Regions from separate parts of the Homo sapiens genome. Here regions 1, 2, 3, 5, 6 and 7 are each linked to region 4. Evidence: fine-mapped QTL for protein levels in blood plasma. Region 4 holds a variant in brackets. A gene starts in each other region. All regions are shown on their reverse strands.

Region 1 (2,224 bases), not on the chromosome of region 4:
GGATAGATGCAGAAGCTCCAGAATTTATACCCAGACAGGCCCGCCCAATCACCCTCCCTGCGCCTGAACCATGATATTTGACCCATTTGGCAGGAGCTACAGAATTCCATCGTGGCAAGGGCAGCCTGAATGGATGATGTAACCTGGGGTCCTTTCAATGGAGGGCCAGACTCCTGGGTCTAGGGGATGAGGGAGGGGAGGATCGGGTTAGCTGGGACCCAGGTGAAAGGGGCTGGGGGCCCACATTCCTGAGTCTCAGAGAGAAGGATCTGGGGTCTCAAGCACCTGAGTCGGAGGGAGGAGGGGTGCTGGGCTCCTGGAAAAACCACCTCTTGGACCATCTATGCAGATCACGCAGAACAAGAGAAATTTCTGCGCCCCATCTGAATTTCTAAGTTTGGGGGGAGGGCGTGATCTGACACTGAGGTTCCTTGATCCTCAGCAAGGCGGCAATTGCTGTATGAAAGAAGCGACCGCATCTGAGACACAAGTATCCTGCCTTGGAAGCCTCTCACCTGGCCGTGGGCCAACCTCAACCTCATCTGTCCCTGCTCAGATGCTCAGACCCTGGACATCCCAGCCTCCTCCTCCCTGATGCAATCCTGGTGTTTCTTTCACCAGAGAAGCCATCCCAGGCCCAGGCAGGTGCTCCTGAAATAACCTGGGGGGAGGGGTGGCTGAAAGTCCCTGACTGGAGTTGGCAGCCAAGCCAGGCCCTGGAGTGGGCACCCAGAGGGAAGACAGGTTGGCTAATTTCCTGGAGCCCCTAAGGGTGCAAGGGTAGGCCTTCTGTGTCTGAGGGAGGAGGGCTGGGGCTCTGGACTCCTGGGTCTGAGGGAGGAGGGGTGGGGGGCCTGGACTCCTGGGTCTGAGGGAGGAGGGTCTGGGCCTGTACTCCTGGATCTGAGGGAGGAGGGGCTGGGGAACTTGGGCTCCTGGGTCTGAGGGAGGAGGGAGCTTTGGTCTGGACTCCTGGGTCTGAGGGAGTAGGGGCTAGGGATCTGGACTCGTGGGTGTGAGGAAGGAGGGGCTGGGGTCCTGGACTCCTGGGTCTGAGGAAGGAGGGGCAGGGGGCTTGGACTCCTGGGTCTGAGGAAGGAGGGGCCGGGAGCCTGGACTCCTAAGTCTGAGGGAGGAGGGTCTGGGGGCCTGGACTGCTGGGTGTGAGCAGAAGGGTCTGGGTGCTGGGAGTCCCGAGCCTGGGGAGATGATGGTTAAACTTCTGGGAATCAAGTCAAACTCCTGAGTCTTTGACATTGATGTATCTTGAATGGGAGGGTCAGTCTGTGGGGAAGGATTACCCAGGTGCCGAGGCAAGAGACTGAAGGCACAAACTGTTTCAGTATAATAAAGAAAATAGTTAGAATAAGAATAGTTATCATACAAATTAGATATAGAGATGATCATGGACAGTATCAATCATTAGTGTAAACATTATTAATCATTAGCTATTACTTTTATTCTTTGTTGTATAACTAATATAACCAGGAAACAACCGGTGGGTATAGGGTCAGGTACTGAAGGGACATTGTGAGAAGTGACCTAGAAGGCAAGAGGTGAGCCTTCTGTCACACCGGCATAAGGGCCTCTTGAGGGCTCCTTGGTCAAGCGGGAACGCCAGTGTCTGGGAAGGCACCCGTTACTCAGCAGACCACGAAAGGGAATCTCCTTTTCTTGGAGGAGTCAGGGAACACTCTGCTCCACCAGCTTCTTGTGGGAGGCTGGGTATTATCTAGGCCTGCCCGCAGTCATCCTGCTGTGCTGTGCTTCAATGGTCACGCTCCTTGTCCTCTTGCATTTTCCTCCCGTACTCCTGGTTCCTCTTTGAAGTTCGTAGTAGATAGCGGTAGAAGAAATAGTGAAAGCCTTTTTTTTTTTTTTTTTGAGGCGGAGTCTCGCTCTGTCCCCCAGGCTGGAGTGCAGTGGCGTGATCTCGGCTCACTGCAATCTCCGCCTCCTGGGTTCACACCATTCTCCTGCCTCACCCTCCCAAATAGCTAGGACTACAGGCGCCCTCCACCACGCGCCCGGATAATTTTTTGTATTTTTAGTAGAGACAGGGTTTCACCGTGTTAGCCAGGATGGCCTCCACCTCCTGACCTTGTGATCCGCCCGCCTCAGCCTCCCAAAGTGCTGGGATTACAGGCGTGAGCCACCGCGCCCGCCCGAAATAGTGAAAGTCTTAAAGTCTTTGATCTTTCTTATAAGTGCAGAGAAGAAAACG
Region 2 (4,121 bases), not on the chromosome of region 4:
ACACTTGGCTCGGCCGGGGGCAGTGGCTCACACCTGTAATCCCAGCATTTTGGGAGGCCGAGGTGGGTGGATCATGAGGTCAGGAGTTCAAGACCAGCCTGGTCAAGATGGTGAAACCCCATCTCTACTAAAAATACAAAAATTAGCCAGGCATGGTGGTGGCCGCCTGTAATCACAGCTGCTTGGGAGGCTGAAGCAGGAGAATCGCTTGAACCCGGGAGGTGGAGGTTGCAGTGAGCCGAGATTGCACCACTGCACTCCAGCCTGGGCGATAGAGTGAGACTCTGTCAAAACAAAAAAACAAACAAACAAAAAACCCGCTTCACTCTTTTACCATTTCTTCTAGCCTTGCTTCCATGCTGCATTCATTAACATGTTTCCATTATAGTCTTATCAATAGATCAGGGTATTATGTTGAAATGCATTGTTGAAAAGCTGCTACTTTGGGACTATTTGCAGGAGGGATGGTGGGAGAGACTGGCCCACTGCTCCTGCCTCTTCCCTTCCATCTCAGTCACCCAAAAGCACTAAAACCTTTACACCTGGAAGAACTGTCCAGCAGGCAGAGCTTACTAAGGATGGAATGGGTACAACAGTAGTGCTGAGCTTCCTGGCCCAGGATGTAATGAGATAGGGGCTTGGATGACTACATGGAGAAATGATGTGCCAGGGATTCTGGGGCCAAGTAGTGCTTAGGCCCATCCTGGAGGTTCTCTCATGATGCTGCAGCAGTGATTCTGTGAGTCTGATGCCTGGTGCACTCAGTTTGAGTCTTAGTACTTCGGATTGGGATGAGATCAGCACGTTGCTTTCATGGAAGGCTTCCAAGGGAGCCAACTGAATGGGAAGGACCTGGACAGGCAATGTTGCTTAAGCCGACCCAGCATCCCTACAGCATCACCAGGCTGAGGAGGTGGAATCTCTGAGGGGCAAGATATGCAAGATATCTTTGTGTCTGAGGGCGAAGCCTCCAAGGGAGTAGGTTTGATGAAGTTTGGGTTGGGTCTCAATCCAGCTCTGCCATAACCTAGTTGGGAAAGCTTGGGCCAAGTTACTTCATCTCCCTGAGCCTCAGTTTTCTCATTAGTCAAAGGGAGCTCTACTTACTTCGCAGGGTTTCTGTGAAGGTTACACAAGAGTTATAAAGCATCTAGTCCAGGGTCTGGCACCCTGCATGGGTCCAGTAAGTGATCTTGTATTTCATTCCTCCCTTTCAATCTCCCGTGTCAGGATATCTGTCGTTTCTCCCCTCTGGGCCTGTTTCTCTGGGTCGTTGGTGCCAGAGCTGCCTTGGGAGCTGACTTGGCAACCCCACGCTCAGAGCACAGCCTTCCTCAGCTGCACACGGTGGGAGGCGCCTGGGCAAGATTTGGGAGCTCGCCAATGCAGACAGGTATTTCCAGTCCTGCTAGAGAAGCAATGGGTGGAGGTAGAAATGGGGATGGGGGAGGAGATCGGATGAGCCCGGGACCTGGGTGGATCCCCTGGGAGGAGGGCGGGGAGTCATGCTCCCCGCCTGGTTCTCCTACCCCCAGGCTCAGATTTCAACCCTCGCTGCCGCCTCTGTGGCGCGCCCGTTCGGGGAGCGGAGAGGGTCGCCCGTAGGTTCCGAAAGAAGGACGGCGTACCAGTAGCCTGGCAAGGGGCCAGCTCCCGCAGCCCTGGAGCGCGAGCCGGACCCTGCTGCCCCTCTTGCTGGCGGCGGGAAGCGGCCCACCGGCCTTTCCACGCTTGGCTGTGCAGAGGTCCACGAGGGGGCGACCTGAGCCCACGTGCAGCCGAGCTCTTCCCTCCTGAAACTACAACTCCCAGGCCGCTCAGGGGTCCCGCCCGCCTCGCCGTGCCTCTGGCGGCTCCAATTGGCCGCCGCGGGAGGGGGATTGGCGGTCTCCAGGGCGACGGGAGGCGCTCGGGGCATCCGAGGCGGGGAGGCGGGTCCGCCCCCTATTGTGTAGCGGCGAGAGTGGAGCCGAGCGGTGCGGAGCAGGTGAGGGAGGGGGCGTACTGGAGGTATAGAAGTGGTGGTGCTGGTAGTGCGGAGTTATGGGGGACAGGAGAAAGCGGGGAGTTCTAGAGAGAAGTGGAATTCGTTGCAGGAGTAGAACTAGGGGAGTTCTGGGGAGTGAAGTGGAATTCTTGGCGGGTGGGTGGGAGTTCCCGGAGAACTGCAGGAGTTCTGGAGGCAATGTGGGGGAGTTCTTGGTGGGTTCTAAGAGAAAGGAGGAGTTCCAGGGGACCAGAGAATGCGAGGGAGAAAGGAATTGTTGGGGGTGGGGTATCAGAATTGTATTGTGGGCTGATGCAGGAGAATCCCAGGGAGGGGAATTATCGGGAGGAGAGGATGGGGAGAAGTGGCTGGGGGGTGGGGAGACCAGAAGGGAGTTCTTTATAGTGCAGGAGACCTGCTGCAATTGGAGATCAGGTGCGAGAAGCTGGAATTGTGGGGGGATTGTGCGTAGTAGCGATAACTGGGAAGGGAGTAATGGGAGGACGAGGGAGTGGTGTGTGGGGAGACTAGAAGGGTGAGGAAATAGTGGAGGCCGGGGGAGTTGGAAAGATATTAAGAGACTGGGAGGAATTCTAGGGATGCCTAGTTACTCAGAGTCTCGGAAAACAACCAGGAGAGAACTAGGGGGTTCCTATATACTTGGAAAAAGGTTTTTCAGGGAAGTGTGGGAGAGCTGCCTGGAGGCAGTGGGAAACAGGGGGCTTGGTTGCTAGTGAATTGCCAGAAGTTAGACATACAGGATCATTAAGTAGAGGCAAGGATCAGACTCTGTGGAGGATGTTTTATAGTCTGTCCTGAACTTTGCGGCCAAGAGTGGGTTGGAGGACTCAGAGCAGAGTCCACTTGGCAGTGCCAGGCCCTGGCATGGACCCTCTGGCTCTCTGAGACTGCCCTAGGATCTGTGGGGCTGTCAGAAGCTCCTACCCTCCATGCCCCAGGGTTAATTTTGTACACTTCAGGGACTCACAGGCTTTTTTTTGGACCATGCCTCTGGGGTTGGGGAAGAAAGAGCTTGACAAACCCTGGCACCCCGAAGATATTGGAGGGGAGTGAGTGGGAGGGATTTGGGTGAGGTCCTTGGGTGGTGGTGCCTGGCAGGGGGAGGGCTGCTTGGCAGTATCGTGAGGAAGTGGCGCCAGCTGCCAGCCCCGGGACCTGTCCAGACCTGGAGGATGCTGCCTGGATCCCCCATACTGGCAGGTGGGGGAGGCAGCTCCTCCTCTCCCAAGTGCCTGACTCACTCACTGCCAAAGCAGTGTAGGGAGACTGAATGGAGAAAGGCCTCGGGTCCTCAGCTTCCAGAGTTTTTCATAGAGGCTGGGGAAATGGGACAAGGGATTGTATCGGGGTGTCCTGGGGACCACTTTCTGAGGCTTAAGCGCCCTGGATTTGCCCTTGACTGGCTCTCTGCCCCTGAGCAGATATCCTCAGGGCCCTTATTTGTCACAGAGGGGTGAAGGCGACAGCACTGGTTCCATCTTGCTGCTATACCTTGTGAGCATCAAGAGTAAGGAAAGAAGCGAGAGCAGCCTAGGCCATGAGAGTCTTGATCTACCATACTTCCTTCAAAAATATTTTTCCAAGCATATGAGGAACCCCAGTTCTCTTCTGGCTTAGTTTTTCAAGACCCTCAGAATGCAGGCATCCCCAGAATCCTTCCACATTTCCTAAGACCTTCCCAACTCTCCCAGCCTCCCCCATTTCCTCACCTTTCTAGTATCTGCATTCAGCACTCACCATTCTCCCAGTACTCCTACCCCTGCTCTTACTCCCCAGGGCTTCAAGATCCCCCCCTTCCCCCTACCCCTCACTTAACTACACTCCTCCCTCCTTTCTCTTCCCAGTGCCTTTCTCTAATGGTGGGGTTTCTTCTGGGCTCCAGTATTGGCCAACTCTGCATGTTGCCTTGTACTTTTCATTTAGATCTGGTGGTTCTCCGGAGAGCAGCTTCCTCGGGTGTTACATGAGCCAAGCCCTCACTGTACAGAAGAGTGAGAGCTGAAACCTGTTCCCTGAGCTGATCAGAAGGACATCCCTTGGCCCCTCCATCTGGGCTCCTGTGGATAGGAGGGGCTGGGTGAGCAGGCCAGCTGGGCTATGGTGTGGTGCCTCG
Region 3 (4,121 bases), not on the chromosome of region 4:
GCTGGGATTACAGGTGTGAACCACTGTGCCTGGCCCTCTAAGTTTCTGCTAAAATGTACTTGTAACTTTTATACTGACTACACTTAAAAGTATTAAACTTGTAAAGAAAAGGCCCTGGAGGAGTTTGTTCTTTACAAGGTCAGTCAGAAGCTACAAGGGGCCAGGCTGGGGCCAAGGTGAGGGCAGGTACATGCAGGGGCAGATGCTGGGTATGGAGTAGGTGCCAGGTGCTAGCTGGGCATGAATGTGCACCCGCTCCCTGACCTCTGCTCCCTGACTCTCAGAAGGAACTAGCACTGCCTGGAGACAGGAAGAAGCAGAGTACGGAAGGCAGACTCTCTGGCCAGAGATCTCGCAGCCAGGAGCACAGTGAGAACAGAGCCTAAGCCTATCTGTCCAGAGCCCAGGCTCCCTTTCCCTACAACTGCAGCCTCCTTATTCTGGTCTGGCCCAGCAGAGTGAGGAGGGGCCACCCACCCAGCCATACCTGCTGGTGGCTGCTGGGGGTGCATGTTCAGAAGAGGAAAAGATGCGGTTCAGGTAGTCATTCAGCAGCTTCTCCTGCACAATGCCTGAGCCACAAGTCAGAAGGGAGAAAAGGGCCACATGATCAGTGCAGCTCCTGGCCCCTGCTGGCCCCAGAGACTTCTGGTCCTAGGCCAGCCACAGGTGCAGCAAGGCCTGAGGCCTTTGTCCCTTCCTTCTCCTCCCAACAAGAGGAGCCTCCTTCCTTCCCTGCCAGCTCTTACCTGTGACCCTGGATTTCTCAGCATCTGAGGTCAGCCTATAGCTCTTGCGGGAGAAAGACATGCCGGCCCCCTTGGATGCCATCCTTCATCTCTCATGGGCAGCCAGTGGTCCTGGGGGCTGAGCCAGACACAGAGCCTGTCTACTCAGGGCCAGCCAGGGGCCCCCACACCTGACCTCAGTCCTGCCATGGCAGGAAGGCTTGGGAGCAGGTGAGGCCAGGGGCATGCACACTAACACATAGGGCAGGGGAATGCAGGGGCTCCCAGCTTCCTACACAGGGAGGGTAGCCAGGGTCTAGGCCCATGTAACAGGGACCACTTCTTGTTCTCCAGTGTCCCTGTGCCCAGCACAGGGCTGGGCAGAGAGCAGGTACTAGATATATTTTTGCCGAACCATAACAAAATGTCTCAGCTCTGTGGAAATCAGACCAAAATGTCCAAAGTGAGGTGTCCTAGGGGCAGAGCCCCTGTATCCATCTCAGTTGTAAGCCATACTGAGTCCAGCTCACAACCAGAAGCGACAATCCTACACATTCCCCCAAGTGCAGACCACCACTGGTCTGGTCATCTCTAGCCATAAGTCCCACTTACTCCCCACAAGGCTGGAGCCTCTTTCCTCAGCCCTGGGTTCCTCCCTTCTTTTATCCATGGTCCTGATAGTTTCACCATTCCCACTCACACATGTGGCCTCCCACCTCATCCAAGCACCACCCTTGCCCAGCCCTCATGGCAAACTCCATTGGTCCTCCTAGTGCATCTATCCCTCACATCATGTTGCTGCTGCAGCTGCTCCAGAACCTGCACTGAGTCCCTGGTGCTGGCCTCACTGATGTGTAGCGGTGCTGTCCAACACAGCAGCCGTCATCCACATGAGGTTACTTAAATTTAAAGTTTTAAAAATTAACAATTCGATTTCTCAGTTGCCTTAGCCACATTTCAAGAGTTCAATGACCACATGTGGCTAATGGTTACTCTGTTGGACAGCACAAAGGTAGAACGTTCCCACCATCATATAAAGTTCTATTAGACAGCGCAGGTCTAGAGTTTCGCTCTGCAGCACTGCCTTAGCCAGCACTCCCTACTCTGCAGTTCAGTCTCTTATCTCACCCCAAACAGACCCTCTACTCCCGCCACAAACCCTTGTGGGTCTGCACCACGCCTGCTCCTCGGGAAGGTGATTTTCCCGACCTCGGGCCCTCGGTGGGCGTCCATGATCGGTGCCCCTTCACTACCAGAGTAGTTGAAGATCTGATTAAACTCAGTCATTCATTTGATGAGCAGACCTTCCAGACACCCGGAGTGGGCTCCGGGAGTCAGTTGCTGAGGACCCAGGTGAGAGGCGGACCTTGTCCCCGCCCGGGGACTCCCTGTCACGGCTATCCCGTCCAACCCCGCCGGGGTATCCGGACTCAGAACTGAACCTACTCCGTCTGGGAGCCCAAGGACGGCGAGGGCGGCGCATGGCTCCCCCAAGTCGCCCCCGCCTGGCCCCAAGCTCCACAGGACCTGCCAGACCAGCTTCCGCTCGGAGTTTCGCACCCAGATCCCTGCGCTGCAGGTGCCCTCGCACTGGACTAGCCCGGACCGCGAAGGGAATAGCCGGAACCCGCCAGGCTCAGAGCCCTGCCGCCCCTCACTCACCCGGAGCCTCGGCCGCAGCGACCCGGCTCACAACATCCGCCCAACCTCTTGGCTACGGCGTCCGTTCAGGGCCAAATCACGCGCACGCTTGCGCGCTGAGCCTCCAGCCGCGCACGCGCACTGGCCCGCGCCCAGCCTCCGCTAGGGGACCCCCTCCATGGCTTCCCACCGGGTTGTTCCAGGCCTCAGCTTCGCCGAAAGGCCTCACCACCTCCGACCTCCGCCTGCTCTGGGGATGCTCCCAGCCCTGCTGCGGCAGAACGCGACATGCTAACCGGAATCCCTAGGCCGCCTGTCTCCTACCCATACTTAGAGGCCCCGCTCAGACGGTCCTTAAAACGTCTGAAAGGCCGTTCCTGCCAGAGTCCCTGCTACCTGTTACCTCCACCCCTATTTAGTCCTAGTGGACAGCCTCGCTCACCTTCCCTGGGATGACACTTCTGGCGGCTGAGATGAGCGAGCCTCTCTGGGCTCTGCCGCCGGGTGTGGGCTGACCTGCCTACAGCTGGGGCCTGATAAGGCAGCAGCAAAAGGGTGGAGGGGAGGCAGTGTTGAAGCTGGGGCAAGTAATTTTCCCCAATTTACAGGGAAAAACCGAAATTCAGAAAAGTTTAATGTCACCCAGGGGCTGGAGCCCAGACCTCTGGCAGCTCTCACTTTCACAATGCCCTTGGGCTGACTAGGCTGCAGAGGGGTTTCACCCCAACCCCAGGGCACCTCAAGTGTCCCCACCAAACCTTCCTAACACCTGTCCACTAAGCTGTACTAGGCCCTTGCAACTGACCTATGGGACCTGAGGCCTGGCCCCTCATGGCTCCTGTCACCAGGTCTCAGGTCAGGGTCCAGCAGGCCCTGAGCTGACGTGTGGAGCCAGAGCCACCCAATCCCGTAGGGACAGGTTTCACAACTTCCCGGATGGGGCTGTGGTGGGTCACAGTGCAGCCTCCAGCCAGAAGGATGGGGTGGCTCCCACTCCTGCTGCTTCTGACTCAATGCTTAGGGGTCCCTGGTAAGTGCCCCCAACCCTGATCCCCATCTGCCTTCAGGAGGGGGTTGGCCCCATTCTCCTATTCTAGGATGAGAAAAAAGTCGGGGAGCCAGAGGCTCAGTGGGCATGGGGCAGTGACCTTGCCCTCTTGAGCACAGCTGGGAAGCCCTAGGAACACATAGACATTGCCCACTTAGGCCTCTATTAGCACGTCTGCTCTAGCACTGAAGCAGTGTCAGGACCACACAGATGCACGCACACAGCAGGCAGTGACCCCTCCTGAGCCTGATCTACCCCTCTAACCTAGCATATGCCTTTGTGCAGGTGAGAGCCCAGATTTGGAGTCTGAATGCCTAGCCAGGGCCCCTGGCTGGGTAATGTGATGGCTCTGAGCCTTAGCATTCTCATTTGAGAGATGAGGTGGGGCAAGCTTCATCACCCACTGCTCTCACAGAGCGTATGTGTTAGATCTGAGCCCGGTGCCTGGGCCACTAAACAGAGGCACCGGTGATAACTACCAAGTCTGGGCCTGCTTCCCAGGGGAAATTTTTTTCACAAGTATCTGTGCAGGGGGCTAGACTGGCCCTTGAAAGTGCATACAGGGTCCATCCCAGAAGCCTTGTAGCTTTGATCCCCTGAATGAACAAAGTGTGGACATGCCAATACACATTACTGACATGTATGCCCACCTGACCTGCACCCACTCATGCCTACTCTGCAGGGCAGCGCTCGCCATTGAATGA
Region 4 (4,121 bases):
TGGAATATTACATTGACACTAAAAATGATAGTAGTGGCCGGGCGTGGTGGCTCACGCCTGTAATCGCAGCACTTTGGGAGGCTGAGGCGGGTGGATCACAAGTTCAGAAGATCGAGACCATCCTGGCTAACACGGTGAAACCCCGTCTCTACTAAAAAATACAAAAAATTAGCCAGGCGTGGTGGCGGGCACCTGTAGTCCCAGCTGCTCAGGAGGCTGAGGCAGGAGAATGGCGTGAACCTGGGAGACAGAGCTTGCAGTGAGCGGAGATCGCGCCACTGCACTCCAGTCTGGGTGACAGAGCGAGACTCCATCTTAAAAAAAAAAAAAATGATAGTAGTGATCTATCAGATGAGAACATGTCCCGGCATGATAAAAATAAATAATAATAATAATAATTTTTGAAAATGATGGTGATCTATTAGTACAGAAAGATGTTCATAAAGCAACTTTAAAACAGCATATCAAGTATGGTCTTACTTTTGTACAAATATATTTATATATGCATATAATAGAAATTTAAAAGGACATTCTCCAAAATTTGTTAGAGTGTTTTTTTTTTTTTTTTGAAGATGGTAGATTTGGAGTGATTTTTTCTTTTTTGCATTTCTGTAATTTGTAACGTCTTTACTATAAAAAATGTATCTATAAAAAATGTATGGCTGTTAAAATGAACATTTTTCTTTAAAAATACAGTGTTTTGGCTAGGCGTAGTGGCTCACGCCTGCAATCTCAGCACTTTGGGAGGCTAAGGCGGGTGGATCACTTGAGTCTAGGAGTTGGCAAACAGCCTGGGCAATGTGGAGAAACCCGATCTCTACAAAAAAAATACAAAAATTAGCCAGTCATGGTGGTGAGTGCCTGTGGTCCTACCTACTTGAGAAGCTGAGGTGGGAGGATCAGTTGAGCAGGGGAGGCGGAGGTTGCAGTGAGCTGAGATGGCACCACTGCACTTTAGTCTGGGCCACAGAGTGAGACTTTGTCTTTAAAAAATAAAAAGAATGAAAGACATTGGAAGGAGAGTGGATTCCCTGTTCAGGGGCAGAGAAACTTCCGCTTCTATACGAGTTCTGAGTCCAGGTAAGTCAGTGTTTCAGCTGTGTCTGGTCAAGCCAGGAAACTTCTGACAGACATGGTTTGAATAACGAATAAGAGACCACATCTCTCCAGAGCAACCCTTCAGGGCCCTGATTCTGCCCATGGAGGGTGGGCAGGTGGTGTATGAGAAAACTGAGAACCAGAGATGTAAAATTGCTTGCTTTCTTGGGCCACACTGTAGAGCTAGACCGGCATCCAGAGCTCCCAATGCCCACACAAAGCTCTAAATTGCAAAGAGCACACACACTGATTATTATTTCTGTAATTATTATCAGTATTTGTGCTGGATTATAATTCATTGGCAAGCAGGGACTATATGCACATAAAGTTATCTGCAATGAATTCAGCATAGTAAACTTGCAAAAAAAAAAAAGGTGTGGTAAAAGCTTTTGGATAATGATGATGACTTTGGTATCAAGAATTAACCTGTCCCAGCCAGGCGCAGCGGCTTACACCTGTAATCCCAGTACTTTGGGAGGTCGAGGCAGGCAGATCACTTGAGGTCAGGAGTTCGAGACCAGCCTGGCCAACATGAGGAAACCCTATCTCTACTAAAAATACAAACAGTAGCCGGGCATGGTGGTGCACACCTGTAGTCCCAGCTACTTGAGGCACGAGAATCACTTGAACCCAAGAGGCAGAGGTTGCAGTGAGCCAAGATTGCACCACTGCACTCCAGCCTGGGCGACAGAGTGAGACTCTGTCTCAAAGTAAAAATAATTAACCTGTCCCAAAGGACAAATGAACATCTGTCAGGTGACTGGAGGCCTATCCCGCAACTTTTTGCATATTCCTAGAGACAGCTGAGCCCAGTAGTTCATTGCCTTGGGAATTCTGACTAGTAACCTGGTAACCCATGACCTTGCCCAGCTGGCTTTGTGAGGGTCAGAGAGGTCTCCAAACTTTCTGCCCTACAGCCTTGGGTTTTTTGATTCTTGGAATCCCTCACCCTCTGAGCCCCTTACTGCAGATAGGACCTTCTCATTCCCCATACCTGGATGAAGTTCCCTTCATATTCAAAGAAAAGCAGTGGCCATGTGATGCTGATGATGGAGGGAAAGAGCTTCTTCAGAGGGATCTGGAGAGAGAGAAAGAGGAGCAGGAGAGGCATCTCCAGGAAGGCCTGGCTGCAACTGCCACCTGGGTCCCTTTGTCACGGCTGGACTCTCACC[A/G]GCAAGGTCTGACCCACGGTGCTGTGTGCCAGGGCCTGGATGTGGTTGGTCTTCTCTTTCACCTGCTCCACTATAGTCTGCACCTCCGTGAGGTTGTCTAGGAGAAGGGGAGGGCATCAGAGTCGAAAGGCTGGCTGTGCAGCTGTTCCTCCTGCTCCCCTGGCTGGGGTCCAGTCAGGATATTCACCCCGTCCCTCCCTCTGAGCAGGTACCCTAAGACCCAGAAAAACAACAGCTCCTCTGAACCATTCTATTTCCCCCTCCCCACCCCTCACCACTCCCATCTTCCCTCTCACCATCCAGGGTGAAAATGAAGACCACAGTATCGATTTCCGTGAGAGAGGGAAGGATGGAAGTCAGGAAGTCCTCCTGGGAGAAGGTGAACTGGGGACCCTGGGGCAGAAGAAGATGGGAGGGTCCCTCCCATGAAAACACTCTAAAGCACAGACTTGAGGACTAAAGGGGGCCGTGGAGGAGATCTAACACTTTTGTGCACAGGTGAAAGAGCTGAAGTTCAAAAGGTACAGTGTTTTGCCCAAGATTATGTAACAAGTCAGTGGACTAGGGCCAAGTTTGGGGACTGGATCTAGAGCTTTCCACACTGCCCATGCTAAGCCAAAGCCTCATGACTTCTGACCCATATTCTCTTCTCTGGACCGTCTATTCCAATGAACTTCCCACCTAGCTCCGCCTTCCCCTTTTCTTCCACCCTCAGCACACTAGTGGTCTCCCCAGCTTCCCCAAGTCCTGTTCTTCTCCGACCTGGTTGGTGAGCTCAGCCTTCTGGTTAAACATGTCACTGTGATCACCAATGAGAAAGCCACGGACATCTCGGAAATCTGGGAAGTTTAAGAACAAGGAGAGAGGAGTGATTGGCTATATAGGAAAGGAAGGTTCTAGGCTTCAGGGGGAGAAAATGGGACTGGGAGGAAAAGTGGCAAGTGGGGCGTAGAGTGAGGAGTAGCCCTTGTGGGAGGCCATAGTTAAGCACAGGGGTGGGAGCTGAGAAGGGATCAAGGACTGAGTTGGGGTTCTAAGGAAGAAGAATTTGACTGAAGTGCCTATTTAGATAGGGAAGGTGGGACACTGAGGAACACCCATGGGTTGGGAGTAGGACAGTGTTTGGAGAGCAGCCCGAATGGTTGGGATCAGGAGGAAGCAGGAAGAACATCTGGACTGGGGTCCCACCAGCACCAAAGGTGTGGATGCACTCTACTCCATCCATGATGGCAATGATGCCCAGGGTCTGCCAGCCAACCAGGTACACGTGGCCTTTCTTCTCCAGACTGAGAATGGGTCAGAGGTCAGGACATGAGAGATCACCGTGCAAAGAGGCCAGAGATGTCCACAGAAGAACACAGGAGTCAACAAACCATGACCCTTCAACATGCAATCCTATCGCCCATACCGTGTTAACATGTCTCACAGAGTCTCCCTGCTCTCAGTATTCTCCATCCGGGCCACATCCTCACCTCTAAACACATATCCACACACCTGGTGCTGACACTCTTCATCAGGGTGGCAATCTTGGGGCTTTGGCTGTAGGTCACCTGATGAGCTCGCTCAAATGTCCGCAAGATTTCCAGGAGGCATCTGGGAGAAAAGCCACCAGCTCTCAAGAAGGGCCCAATTCCCCCTCAGAAAGCTTAGGTGCCTCCCTGAGCGGGGAGGTGAAGGCACAGCTCCCTTAGAACTAAATTCTGCTGGTCCCTGGAGAGGTGCAGAGAGTAGGCCCAGACTGCGTTCCGAAGGGGCAGCAAGGGCTTCTTCAATGGGCAGAAAACAAAAGAGCAGAAAGAGGGACGAGTGCAGCAGGAAAGCACCAGGAGGAGCAGGATCTGAGAGCCACTG
Region 5 (3,335 bases), not on the chromosome of region 4:
GCCAGGTGGCCTGGGGGCAGGGTGACCAGCCATCCCAGCCTGCCTAGGACTATTCAGTTTTAGCACTGGACATCTTTTGTCCGGGGATGCCCCTCAGACCAGGAGATGGAGCAGGGAGGGGCTGGGACCCACAGAGAACTCCCACCCGGCTCAGGACCAAGCACAGCACGTTCCTGTTTCCAGCCCTGAAGAGGCTGGGGAGGGGGACCCGGCCATGGGGCACCCCAAGAAAGGTAGCAGGAACCCAGAGTGCCCAGCAGGGAACTGGGCACTGGGAGGGCGACCCCCAATGGGAGGCATCGACGGGCGGCCCAGGGCCTCCACAAGCTCCACCCAGTCCAAGGGTGGCAGATGAAGGCTGGCAGAGCTGGGGGCACCTCCTGAGCCCTCTTGTCCCAGACTGGGAGGGGAGTCGTGCCTCTTCCTTTGCTTGGCAGGCCCGAGGACCCCATGGGCTGATTCCAGGTCACCCCCCTTGCAGGCCGGCCAAGGTAGTACCTTGCAACCCTCCTTCCCTTTGGGGCTCAGGCATCAGCCCTGGTGTCCGTCACTGCCACACAGATGGTAGGCTCAGAAGCCAGGGCCCCTGGTCCTGCCTCAGGAGTGGGACCAGACTACTTACCCAGGAACAGGACCAAGGCGGGCAGCAGGTGGCTGGACAGAGGCATGGTTGGGCCAGAGGGAGCAGTGCGGCCACACAGGGTGCCTGGGAAGTTCCGTGCGGTTATCAGCCTGCGCTGGCCCCGCACGCTGACTCTGCTGTTAAGTGGAGGGCCCCTCGGCCCGGCCCCACCCAGTGCTGACGGTGCCAAGCATGGGCCGTGAAAGTGGCCCCAGGAGGGGGCCTCTGACCCAGGGTCAGCTCCCACCTGCCCGGCTCCCTCAGACACAAGGTCAGGCTCTTCCACCCTGCCCTGCCCTGCCTGGTGAAGGGGAGGCTCCCACTGGAATGGGGAGGGACCCAGGCACCCCACCAGGACTCTGCTCGGCAGTGTGGGGCGGGCAGAGGCCGCCGTGGCCTCTCACTGTGCCTCTGGCAATAGCGTGGTGCTGGCCAAGGTCAGGACTCAACCAGTCCAGCAGCTGCAGGAGTCCAGCACGTGCACCAGAGCTGGTCCCTGCGTTCTCAGCCGTGGGGAACCTGCCTTTAAGTCAGGCTGTGGAGGATCACGCCGTCATTCATTCGTCCTGAGCAGCCAGGTGCTGTCCGGTGCCAGATACAGGGTCCCTAGGAGCCCAGAAACTTCGGTTTCTCATGGAGCAGACTCATGCTTGGGGCAGGGTCTTTGGGGCTGGGGAAGGAGTGTGGCATTTGGGGCCAGGCCCTGTTTGTGATTTCCCATGGTGTGACCTCGGAGCTTGTGTCACTGAGCCTCAGTGTCCCGGTCTGTAAAATGTGGTTATGACAGTGCCCGTCTGGAGAGGCTGGCCGGAGGACCAGTGAGCTGACAAAGGTGGGGGTGCCCTGTGTACAACCAGCCCTGGCCCCCAGGGTGCCCCTGCACCACCCCATGGAGTCCCACTGTGTATGGGGCTTCCCAGGGCAAGGCCTGAACCCGTGTCCTGCCCACAGCCCTGCCGGGTGCAAGAGGGACCTGGGAGGGGCCTCCAGAGTCAACGTGAGCCTGTGGGGTAGATGCAGCTGTGCGACCTGACCCTGGATACTGGTAGGCCCCATGGGGCTGGTCATGGAAGGAGCCTGCAGGTCACGGAAGGAGCCTCAGGGCAGACAGGACACTGGGGAGCCCTGGGATGGGCTCATAGGAGGGAGCACTGGTGGGCGCCCCAGGTCTTGGCCAGCCCGAGGGACCAGGCCCTGACTCCTCTCGCAAGGGCTTGCCAGACCTCCTCCAAGATGCCCTGGAGGACGATGGCCGTGGGAAGAGCAGTCAGGCCATCAGCGGGCCCCTTTATCAGACCCCAAAGGGCTGAGTGTGCACCGCCACTCCCTGGGGCCACTCCTGTGTTCCCCCACCCACCTGCTTTAGTTAGGGTCTGGGGGCCCCCGGAGGTGGTGACGCAGGGTGCAGGAAGCCAAGGACAGAGTTCAGAAGCCGGCAGGTGTGGCAACACGTTTAATTCTGTGGCCAGGCTAGCCTGTCTCCAAGGCCTGGTGGACAGCACGTCACCAGAGGCTGCCGCAGGAGCAGGCAGGGCCAGCCCTGCAAGAGGAGTGCAGGCAAAGGCGGGGGCTCTGAAGTGGCTGCTGGAGGCAGCAGGCCCCGGGCTGGGAGTGCTCAGTAGCCGTCGTTAGCCCAGGTGACCTCGTAGTCGGGGTACTTGGCTTTGATTTTCTCAGTTGAAATGGCGTGCTGGGCAGGACCATAGGCCTGGAGAAGAGAAGACGCCTGCTGGCACTACCTGGACCCTTCAACCCGATACCCGGCTCTGGGCATCCAGCCACCAGCCACACCAGAAGCGAGTGTGGGAAAGGGATAGGCAGTGCCTGGGGATGCCAAACCCACCATCCCGACCGCCCTTGGGGGCTCCCCTGGGGAGAGGCGACCTCCACAGGCAAGCAAACCTTGATGGTGGATCCTGGGGCCTGAGGCGCCCAGAGGGACGCACGTGGGTCTCATCTGCTGGTGGTTTTTGTGAAGAGCACAGGTGGGGACTCTGAGCTCCACCCAGGTACTGACTGCCTCTGGGGGCCCAGGGCCCAAAGTGCTGGAGGACAGCTAGAGCCCAGCAAGGCCTCCCAAGGCAGGGAGAGGAGACAGCCGGCCATGTCTGGGGGTGTCCGTCCCACCCCTCAGGTCTGGCGTGTGCTCCATGGGGGAATGCAGGAACACAATGGGCCCTGGAGGGAGGGCTCTGCCGCCGACCCTGGGAGAACCCCAGGAAGCCTGCGTGCTCAGCTGGGGCCACGGGTCAGGGCAGCAGGCTCAGGTGGGCCTCGAAGCTGGTACTGGGGCCTCCGGCAGGGCGGGACGGGGCTGCGGCTCACCATGGAATAGCCGTACACGTGAATCTTCTTGTCCTGACTCTGGTGGGAGATGCGCCCGCCGCCCAGACACTCACAGTCGCAGCCTTGCTTCTGCATGTCGCCCGACACTTTGTCGTAGATGTCCGCTGGGATGGGAGGGCGGCCTCAGGACGTGCCCTGGCCGCCCTTGGAGGCCGCGGGAGGAACTCCCAGCCGAAGGGGTCTGAAATCCCAGCTCTGAACAGCCCCTTCCCCAGGAGAGACGAAGCCCCTTGAGGCTGGGACAGGGATGAATGAGCGAAGGAGGGTGGAACCGGGGAGGGCGCGGGAACTGGGAGACTGCTGGGGAGGGTGTCAGGCCGTGTCACGCCCTTCCCGCCCAGGACCTCAGCCTGGGTCAAACCTAGCA
Region 6 (4,121 bases), not on the chromosome of region 4:
CAGGGAAGTAGTAGTGTGGGCACACACATACACACACAATGTACACACGAACACGTACACATTGGTCCTGCTGGCTCAGGAATCTATAGTTGGGTTTCCTTGCAGGAAGTATTTCAGGTGGCCCCATCTATCCCACGTGCCCATAAGTGTTTGTGCAGACTTTGTGTCTGTGCTTGGAAGGCTACAGTGTTAGAGGTAGCCCAGTTCCCTGCTACCCTGAGGGTAAAGTCCATATTACACAAACAGGGGGCAAAGGGCCTGGGCAGGAAGGGAGCACAAACAACACCTCTGGGGAGGAGCTAGGCAGCTTGGGGAGCAGGGCAGGGGAAGGGAATCATAAAAATCCCTGCTGTACCCAGGAACCGGGAGCATAGGGAGGGGCAGTGTCACAGGCCCTCCTTTGGTAGAGAGCACTAGGGGTGGGATAGAGCCAGAATCTCCAGCCCCTCCTCAACCAGAGGCCTCCCCTCCAACATCCCCCACCCCCATCACAGCCAGGACAAAGGGGCTATAGAAGGACTGAGACAGGGCCGGATGCCCAGAGGCTGCAGGACCCAGATAAAGGGTAAAGAGACCCAACCATGCCTGCCTCCTGCCTCCCCAGGGAGGGTGGCCAGACTCTGGTACTCCTGGGTTTCTGGGTGAAGATTGCAGGAGTCTGGATGGGACAGTTATACAGTCACTCCACTGCTCCCTCCCACGCCAGTCCCCAGACCACCCCCCTCCACCAGCTGGGAGTGTTCACATCTAAAAATCCCAGGATCTAAATTTAGGCCCAGCAACTGTGAGGGAAGCACAGGTGGTTTCTTCCACTCCCACACTGGGGAAGGGGCCCTGGCTGTGCCAAACCCCAAGCTGAGATCTGAGGGGAGGGGAGGAGATCCACAGAACTTCAGTCCTCAGGTGTCCACGGTCCCAGAGACACCCCAAAGGGGTGGGCTCAGATAGCATGGGAGTCGGGGGAGGACTGGAGAAGAGCAATCCGGGGCTCTGTCTAGGGTCCTAGAGACAGTGTCAGACAATAAGCAAAATGGGGGCGGGAGGCACAAGCTGAGCCCAGGAAGGACTCCCCAAGGCAGGAGGCTTAGAAAGTAGCAGAGGTGCCCTCTTGATCCTCAGGTTGGGGAGAGAAAAGACCAGAGGCTGGACATCCTTGCCCTTACAGCTCCTGGCCCAGGGCCTTGTGTATAGTAGATGCTCAATAAATATGAGTTGTGTTGACCTGGGTCTTGACAAAGAGATGTTGCTTAAGCTCTGCTATACTGAGGAAAGGGGGCGCCAGCCTCTGTTGGGCCTCCTGCCTGATGTCACCTGAACTTGGCCCTCTGGTTAATCTCAGACCTCCCCAGGGCAGGCTCACTCACGGAAGAGGAGGTGCCGCTCCTGTTTTTCCAACACCAGAGAACAACAACCCCCTCCAACCTTCTGTAGCTCCGCCCTGTCGGCAAAACAACGAAACTAGGGGTAGCTGAAATCGGCGCGGGTGGGGGGCAGGGGGTTGGCGAGCAAACCGAGACCCTTCCCGCCAAGGCCCCCACCTCCAAGCACCTCCTGTTTACAGAATGAAGTTCCCTGCTCCCCTCCCTGCAGGGCCCCTCAGAAGTGTGAACTACTGTTTCGGCCTCAGCCTCTTCTGGGGAGACCAATTAGAGGGTCGGCGACGCTCTGGAGAAGGGTGGCGTGAGGGTCCCGGAATGCCGCCCTCGGCCGGACCACGCCGATAACCCGAGCCTGACCGCCCCTCTCCCAGGTGGTCCTGGCAAACCGGGGGCAGCACCCACAACCCCGCGCCGCCTGAGACCGTGCCCATACCCTCCGAGGCTGCGCGCACTGGGTTCCGGCTCCCAGGTGCCGAGCCCGCCGGTGCTCTCGCGCCACTTACCTGCCTGAGAGTTGCCCACCTCGGAGCCCCGGGCCAGGCTGAAAAGCAAGCCCAGCACCTGCAGAGCGTCGTTCGCCCTCATGACTCCGCAGAGGGTGAAGGGAGCCCAGCCAAGTCCGGCCCGGGGGCCCCTAGGCTAGGACATCGAGGCAAGAGCCACCTGAACCGCTGGCGAATTGGTGGCTGCTGCGGCGACGGCAGCGGAGGTTGCAAATTGCAATCGGAGCCGGAGCCGGAGTCCGGGGAGGGATGGCAGGGGAGGGGTGTGTGTGTGTGAGAGAGAGAGAGAGAGGGAGGGAGGAACGCAGAGGGAAGGGGGTGAGTCACGGCCGCGCCCCCTCCCGCGCGAGGCTGGAGTAGGGATTGCGGAGCCTCGGACCGCCTGCCCCGAGCGTGCCACGCCCCGCGGTCCCGCAACTTGGCGGAGCAGATCGAGGATGGGGCTCACCCTAATTTTTCTGCAGGAGATAGGCCAAGGGGAGGTCGAGATTCCGAAAGCCCCCAGATCCAGGGAAGGGTAATGAATGAGGGAGTGGAAAGCTCTCCAAAGCCCTGCCCCCTGAAAGTTGGCCTCGCCCATTAACCAAATCACTCAACTCCCCTAGCCGGTTGGTTCACTTGGTGGATTTTCTCTCAGAATGTGAATATTTCTCTCTGTGTGTTTTTGAGGGGGAGGGTGTTTTTTGCCTCACGTCCAGGCCACCTCAGTTTCTCCCAGACTCGAAACCCCATAATTCATCCACCCAGCCCAGGAACCCGAGCCACAGAGACCGCGTGAAATTGCACTGTCTCTGGCCGCTTCCTCCTCCAGACCCGGCGCCGGCCGGGCCTCTCCCGGGGATTTGGATGGGGGGCGGGGGTGGTTTCCAGCCTGGGAACAGACCCCGGAGCCCGCCTTTCCACTTCTACCCCGGGAGGGGCTCCCGCACCTGTCGCCGTCCCCTCTGCTGCCCCCCACGGCCGCCTGGGAGAACAGCTGCCTCCCCTTCCACACTGGAGTCTGGCCGCACCGTCCGGGCGGCCGCAGTTCCCGCCGCTCTTCTGGGGACCCAGATGGGCACACACCAAGGCGCTTACACCCTCCCAGGTGCCTTCCAAGTCCAGGCTCTCGCAGGAAAGGGGATGGGGCAGTGAAGTGGGACGCGGAGAGGACACTAGAGACTGCGTCCACGAATGGCGTGGACCTCTGGAACCTCCCCCACCAGCTGCCCGGACCTGGCCAGAGGCGGTCGGGCTCCCTGCGGGTTGCTGCCCAAAGCCCTGCTAGTCCCGGGACGGATCCGACCGGCGCCGCCTGGTGCCCATCCGTGGCAGTGGAGTCCCAGACGGCCTTGCATTTCAAATCCCTTAAACTGGTATTCGGGATCTCGCCCGGAGAGCCTAGTTGTTTTCTCCAGAACTTCAAGCCTGAAGACTTCGAAAACAGTTGAGCCTTGATAAAGAAAAATTTCACCCCTCACACCTAGCAAAGACTACCGGCTAACATTCCTTAAACATGCTCCCTATTGATATGCAACCTAGAGGGCCTGTTCTCTACTGGAGAATCTCCGCTTTGGGGAGGTTGGCTTTCTCCAGACCATGTGTATAGTAGTCATAATAATAATAGCAACAACAAAACCATTAACATATACAAACATTTCCATATATCATTTCATTTACAAAGTATGTCCTCAAACTTAGTGCCTTAGAGAATGTGTCACTTAACATAAAAATTATATGATTTAGGCAATATAACTCCCCATTTTACAGAACTAGAAGTGTGTGACCTCTCCAAGGTCATCCACCTGGTGACAGTGGTTGAGGTGATCAGGTGATTGGGAGGTGGGGCTCAGACTTTTACCTAGGGTTTCTTTCTCTCTTTTTTTTTCTTTTCTTTTTTTTTTTTTTTGAGACAGAGTTTCGCTCTTGTTGCCCAAGCTGGAATGATCCACCTGCTTCAGCCTGCCAAAGTGCTGGGATATCTTCCATCTTAAAAAACAAAACATTCGGCTGGGCGCGGTGGCTCATGCCTGTAATCCCAGCACTTTGGGAGGCCGAGGCGGGCAGATCACTTGAGGTCAGGAGTTCGAGACCAGCCTAGTCAACATAGTGAAACACCGTCTCTACTAAAAATACAAAAATTAGCTGGGCATGATGGTGGGCACCTGTAATCCCAGCTACTTAGGAGACTGAGGCAGGAGAATCGCTTGAACCCGGGAGGTGGAGGTTGCAGTGAGCTGAGATTGCATCACTGCACTCC
Region 7 (2,959 bases), not on the chromosome of region 4:
GTCGGAGCTCTTAAGCCACCGGCGCACGCACACGGGCGAGAGGCCCTACGCTTGCGGCGAGTGCGGGAAGCCTTTCAGCCACCGTTGCAACCTCAACGAGCACCAGAAGCGGCACGGGGGCCGCGCTGCGCCCTGACCCGAGGACGCCCTGAGCGGGAGGTCGCGGACACACGGCATTGCGGGGTCTCGGGCGTGAGTGCGCTGTCTGCTGGCCCAGACTTTTTCGGGCCGCCGGTGCGGGCGCCCTCCTGCTGGGAGTGCAGGGGCGGCCTTGGGTGTGGAGAACCCTGGCTGCACAGTCCCTTTGACGATAGTCCACCGGCCACCCAGGCCTGTCTGGGGACATGTAGGATGGGCTCTTACCCCAGGGAGGGCGGCAGGCTCCACTTCGGCGAGAGGTTCGTCCATGCAGAGGTGGGCAAGAACTGGGGTCTCCGACAGGTGTGGCTATTTCTTTGAGTTCTCTGGCACTGTCAAAAGCAGCCAACCCACCCCCCAGTCCACATGGTCACCACTGCTGCTACCAGCTGCTCAGTGCAGTGGCCACTGTGTCTCCTAAGGTGCTCGCTTCAGTCAGCACTTCATCTCAGGCAACCACAGGTGACAGTTAAACATGATGAAACCGCATGCTATGGCTTTCTAGTGTCTCATATTCTGTTGGCAAGAAGCTCAGCACTGCATTCCTGACCGAGGTCAGAACCAGATCAATCTCAGAATCTCACCTGTGTAGGTCTGTTTCATGGGACTTTTCTTTTTTGGGGGAGGGGGCAGGGTTTCACTCTGTCACCCAGGCTGGAGTGCAGTGGTGCAATCACTGTTTATTGCAGCCGCGACTTCTTAGGCTCAGGTGATCCTCCCACCTCAGCCTCCCAAGCAGCTGGGATGACAGACTTGCGTCACTACACCTGGCTAATTTTAAAATTTTTTGTAAGGACAGTGTCTCACCATGTTGCCTAGGCGGGTCTCAAAACTCCTGGGCTCAAGTGATCCTCCTGCCTCAGCCTCCCAAAGCGTTGGGATTATAGGCGTGAGCCACCGCACCTGGCCAGGGAACCTTCTTTATACCAAGTACCACACCAGTCAGAGTCAAGTCAGGAAATAGAAACCACACTAGGTATTTCAAACAGAGGGGATATAAGTTAGGGACTGATTGTGCAGGTTTTGCAAGGCTCAGAGAGCAAAAGTGGATGTTGCAGAATCTCAGAGCTGGATACTTGCAGGAAGCTGCTACCACCCTTAGGGCTGGAGAACCCAGGGAAGCTAAGAGGAGGGTGCAACGAGGCTGGTGTTGGGACTGCCAAAGGAAACACAGAATGACAGCTCCATCTCTGCAGACCTCAGATTTGACCAGGCCTCTGGCTGCCTGGGCAGCCTCATTGCCAATGGGCTGAAAGGTTCTGTCACTGTTCAGTGGTCTGACTTCTGAGTTCTGTGCACACCCTGAGCTCTGCTCCTCTGGCCTGGCCACCAGTCCTTGTCTGAGTGCCCCAGGTCTGGTTATGACTTCAGGCCTCAGCACCTGGTTGTCTCTTCTGCAAAGAATGCATTCTCCCCCAGTCCACCCAGAACACACAGCCTCCATCCAGGTACTGGCTCTGAGCAGGACAGAGAGCATGCAGCAGGTGCTCAGCAATATGGAAATGGGACCAAACAGAGGGAGTCTCCACAGCTCCCCGTCCCTCACAGCAGAAGCCAGAGCCGCTGCAGTGCCCAGCTGGTCTTCATCACGTCTATGAGCTCTGCAATCGCTCTGCAGTCGCCTCAACTCCTGGTCTCCTCTGCTCCTTCTCACTGCACCCGCATCTCCCATGTTTGCACTGGCTGTTCCCTCTGCCTGGAATGCTCCTTGCCCAGTTATCCCACTGTCTTCTTTGCATCTGGCACACAGTAGATGCTCAATAAATGCCTGTGGAATGAATGAGTGGGGAGGATGCAGTGCAGGGGGCAGATGAGGGCTAGGCGGTTGCCCTGGGCCCTCACACTCGTAGCGGAGCTAGGCTGGGACACCCAGGGTGGGGACCAGACCTCCCCGGGTGGGAATGACAGGATGTCCATGGAGGCTGAGTGTGAAAGCACCACGGTCTCACCCCTGTCCTGTTCCATCCCAACAGGCTGTGGTGAGGAGAGGGGGAGGCAGGGGAAGCGGGAGGCCTGGCCTCCAGGCAGCAGGCTATAGCCACATGAGTGACCACCAGCAGCTCAGGTAACTGAGCACATGTCACGGGTAGGCCTGGGAAGCGCAGGTCTCAGCTGAATGACCTGGGTGGAAATCCGACTCCAGAGCCGTGGTGGGTCACACCATGCAGAATGAACCAGTGATGGAGAAGGAACCACAGTCCTCAGGAAGAGTGAGGGTGCACCTCCAGACAGCCCATGTGAGGGCAACCGCAGAAAGTCTGAAAAGAGGTGAACCCCACCTTTGGTGTCACATGTGCAGTGTGGTGTGACAGGGAGGGGCTCGCTGGGCTTCAGCCCCGGCACTCTCCACTTGACCTCAGCAGCTCCAGGTAGAGTGGGGAGAACTCAGCGTCTCCTTCTAGAACAGGTTCTAGGATCCATCACTGAAATGAGGATGAGGTGGTTTTAACATCATTTTATCACTCTTGATTTAGTTTATTAATCATACATGATTATTGATTATAATTGTTGCTGGGCATCCTGAGGCCTCAGAAGTTCACCCTTTGCCCTGACCCCATGGGGGCCCTGCCCCCGCCTTCCGGGAAGGACAAACACGGGAAGAGGTCAGTGCCCGAGCCACCCCACCGCCCTCCCTTGGGGCCTCATTGCTGCAGACGCTCACCCCAGACACTCACTGCACCGGAGTGAGCGCGACCATCATGTCCATGCTCGTGGTCTTTCTCTTGCTGTGGGGTGAGGCCTCCTGGGGTCTGGGTCCCTGGGGCGGGAGGGGGCGGGAACAGGAGCCTTACGGGGGCTGTCTCCGCAGGTGTCACCTGGG

Alleles and levels. Positions count from the first base shown, and alleles are read on the strand shown. Strength reflects both the effect of a copy and how common the allele is.
As copies of A replace G in region 4, the plasma level of the protein whose gene starts at base 546 in region 1 goes up (moderate association).
For the plasma level of the protein whose gene starts at base 1,947 in region 2, allele A in region 4 goes with a higher level than allele G (moderate association).
With allele A in place of G in region 4, the plasma level of the protein whose gene starts at base 2,523 in region 3 is higher (moderate association).
In carriers of allele G in region 4, the plasma level of the protein whose gene starts at base 739 in region 5 tends to be lower than with A alone (moderate association).
For the plasma level of the protein whose gene starts at base 2,100 in region 6, allele G in region 4 goes with a lower level than allele A (moderate association).
For the plasma level of the protein whose gene starts at base 2,783 in region 7, allele A in region 4 goes with a higher level than allele G (moderate association).

The links. PIP is the chance, under the fine-mapping model, that this variant and not a neighbour inherited with it causes the effect. Protein levels are from antibody-based Olink assays in UK Biobank. Linkage for the fine-mapping came from a reference panel and not from the study's own genotypes, which makes the PIPs less certain.
Region 1: FGF21 starts here. The variant in region 4 is fine-mapped to the plasma level of the FGF21 protein (UK Biobank, PIP above 0.99).
Region 2: IGSF9 starts here. The variant in region 4 is fine-mapped to the plasma level of the IGSF9 protein (UK Biobank, PIP above 0.99).
Region 3: it holds the start of MST1, and the variant in region 4 is fine-mapped to the plasma level of the MST1 protein (UK Biobank, PIP above 0.99).
Region 5: it holds the start of MAMDC4, and the variant in region 4 is fine-mapped to the plasma level of the MAMDC4 protein (UK Biobank, PIP above 0.99).
Region 6: ERBB3 starts here. The variant in region 4 is fine-mapped to the plasma level of the ERBB3 protein (UK Biobank, PIP above 0.99).
Region 7: it holds the start of A1BG, and the variant in region 4 is fine-mapped to the plasma level of the A1BG protein (UK Biobank, PIP above 0.99).

What each region holds. Positions count from the first base shown.
Region 1 is chr19:48,753,846-48,756,069 of GRCh38, reverse strand. FGF21 (fibroblast growth factor 21) reads right to left here and starts at 546. Exons shown (of 4, transcript NM_019113.4): 1 at 286-546; 2 at 1-179. It also overlaps a transcript of FUT1 not described here. RefSeq lists enhancers at 1-458, 459-1,324, cis regulatory regions at 579-587, 615-627, 262-822 and promoters at 1-633, 579-670, 102-708, 1-834, 1-943.
Region 2 is chr1:159,943,439-159,947,559 of GRCh38, reverse strand. IGSF9 (immunoglobulin superfamily member 9) reads left to right here and starts at 1,947. Exons shown (of 21, transcript NM_001135050.2): 1 at 1,947-1,987; 2 at 3,932-4,121. The coding sequence starts at 4,106. LOC124904438 (a long non-coding RNA gene) reads right to left here. Exons shown (of 3, transcript XR_007066684.1): 2 at 1,108-1,408. RefSeq lists an enhancer at 1,324-1,824 and a silencer at 1,667-1,961.
Region 3 is chr3:49,687,876-49,691,996 of GRCh38, reverse strand. MST1 (macrophage stimulating 1) reads left to right here and starts at 2,523. Exons shown (of 18, transcript NM_020998.4): 1 at 2,523-3,399; 2 at 4,100-4,121. The coding sequence starts at 3,306. RNF123 (ring finger protein 123) reads right to left here and starts at 2,440. Exons shown (of 39, transcript NM_022064.5): 1 at 2,391-2,440; 2 at 750-867; 3 at 488-572. The coding sequence starts at 831. RefSeq lists an enhancer at 2,610-3,169.
Region 4 is chr2:27,506,223-27,510,343 of GRCh38, reverse strand. It overlaps GCKR (glucokinase regulator), which reads right to left. Exons shown (of 19, transcript NM_001486.4): 11 at 3,765-3,863; 12 at 3,459-3,556; 13 at 3,033-3,109; 14 at 2,567-2,663; 15 at 2,270-2,367; 16 at 2,093-2,176. Among named protein-coding and RNA genes, the nearest start is that of GCKR, 11 kb to the right of the region's middle. The variant A/G (reference allele first, on the strand shown) is at 2,271.
Region 5 is chr9:136,849,750-136,853,084 of GRCh38, reverse strand. MAMDC4 (MAM domain containing 4) reads right to left here and starts at 739. Exons shown (of 27, transcript NM_206920.3): 1 at 623-739. The coding sequence starts at 668. PHPT1 (phosphohistidine phosphatase 1) reads right to left here. Exons shown (of 3, transcript NM_014172.6): 2 at 2,948-3,072; 3 at 2,061-2,330. The coding sequence ends at 2,238.
Region 6 is chr12:56,078,144-56,082,264 of GRCh38, reverse strand. ERBB3 (erb-b2 receptor tyrosine kinase 3) reads right to left here and starts at 2,100. Exons shown (of 28, transcript NM_001982.4): 1 at 1,883-2,100. The coding sequence starts at 1,964. RefSeq lists an enhancer at 1,453-2,443.
Region 7 is chr19:58,353,316-58,356,274 of GRCh38, reverse strand. It overlaps A1BG (alpha-1-B glycoprotein), which reads left to right and starts at 2,783. Exons shown (of 8, transcript NM_130786.4): 1 at 2,783-2,871; 2 at 2,948-2,959. The coding sequence starts at 2,838. It overlaps ZNF497 (zinc finger protein 497), which reads left to right. Exons shown (of 3, transcript NM_198458.3): 3 at 1-1,918. The coding sequence ends at 136. It overlaps A1BG-AS1 (A1BG antisense RNA 1), which reads right to left. Exons shown (of 4, transcript NR_015380.2): 2 at 2,801-2,896; 3 at 2,418-2,561; 4 at 1,092-1,906.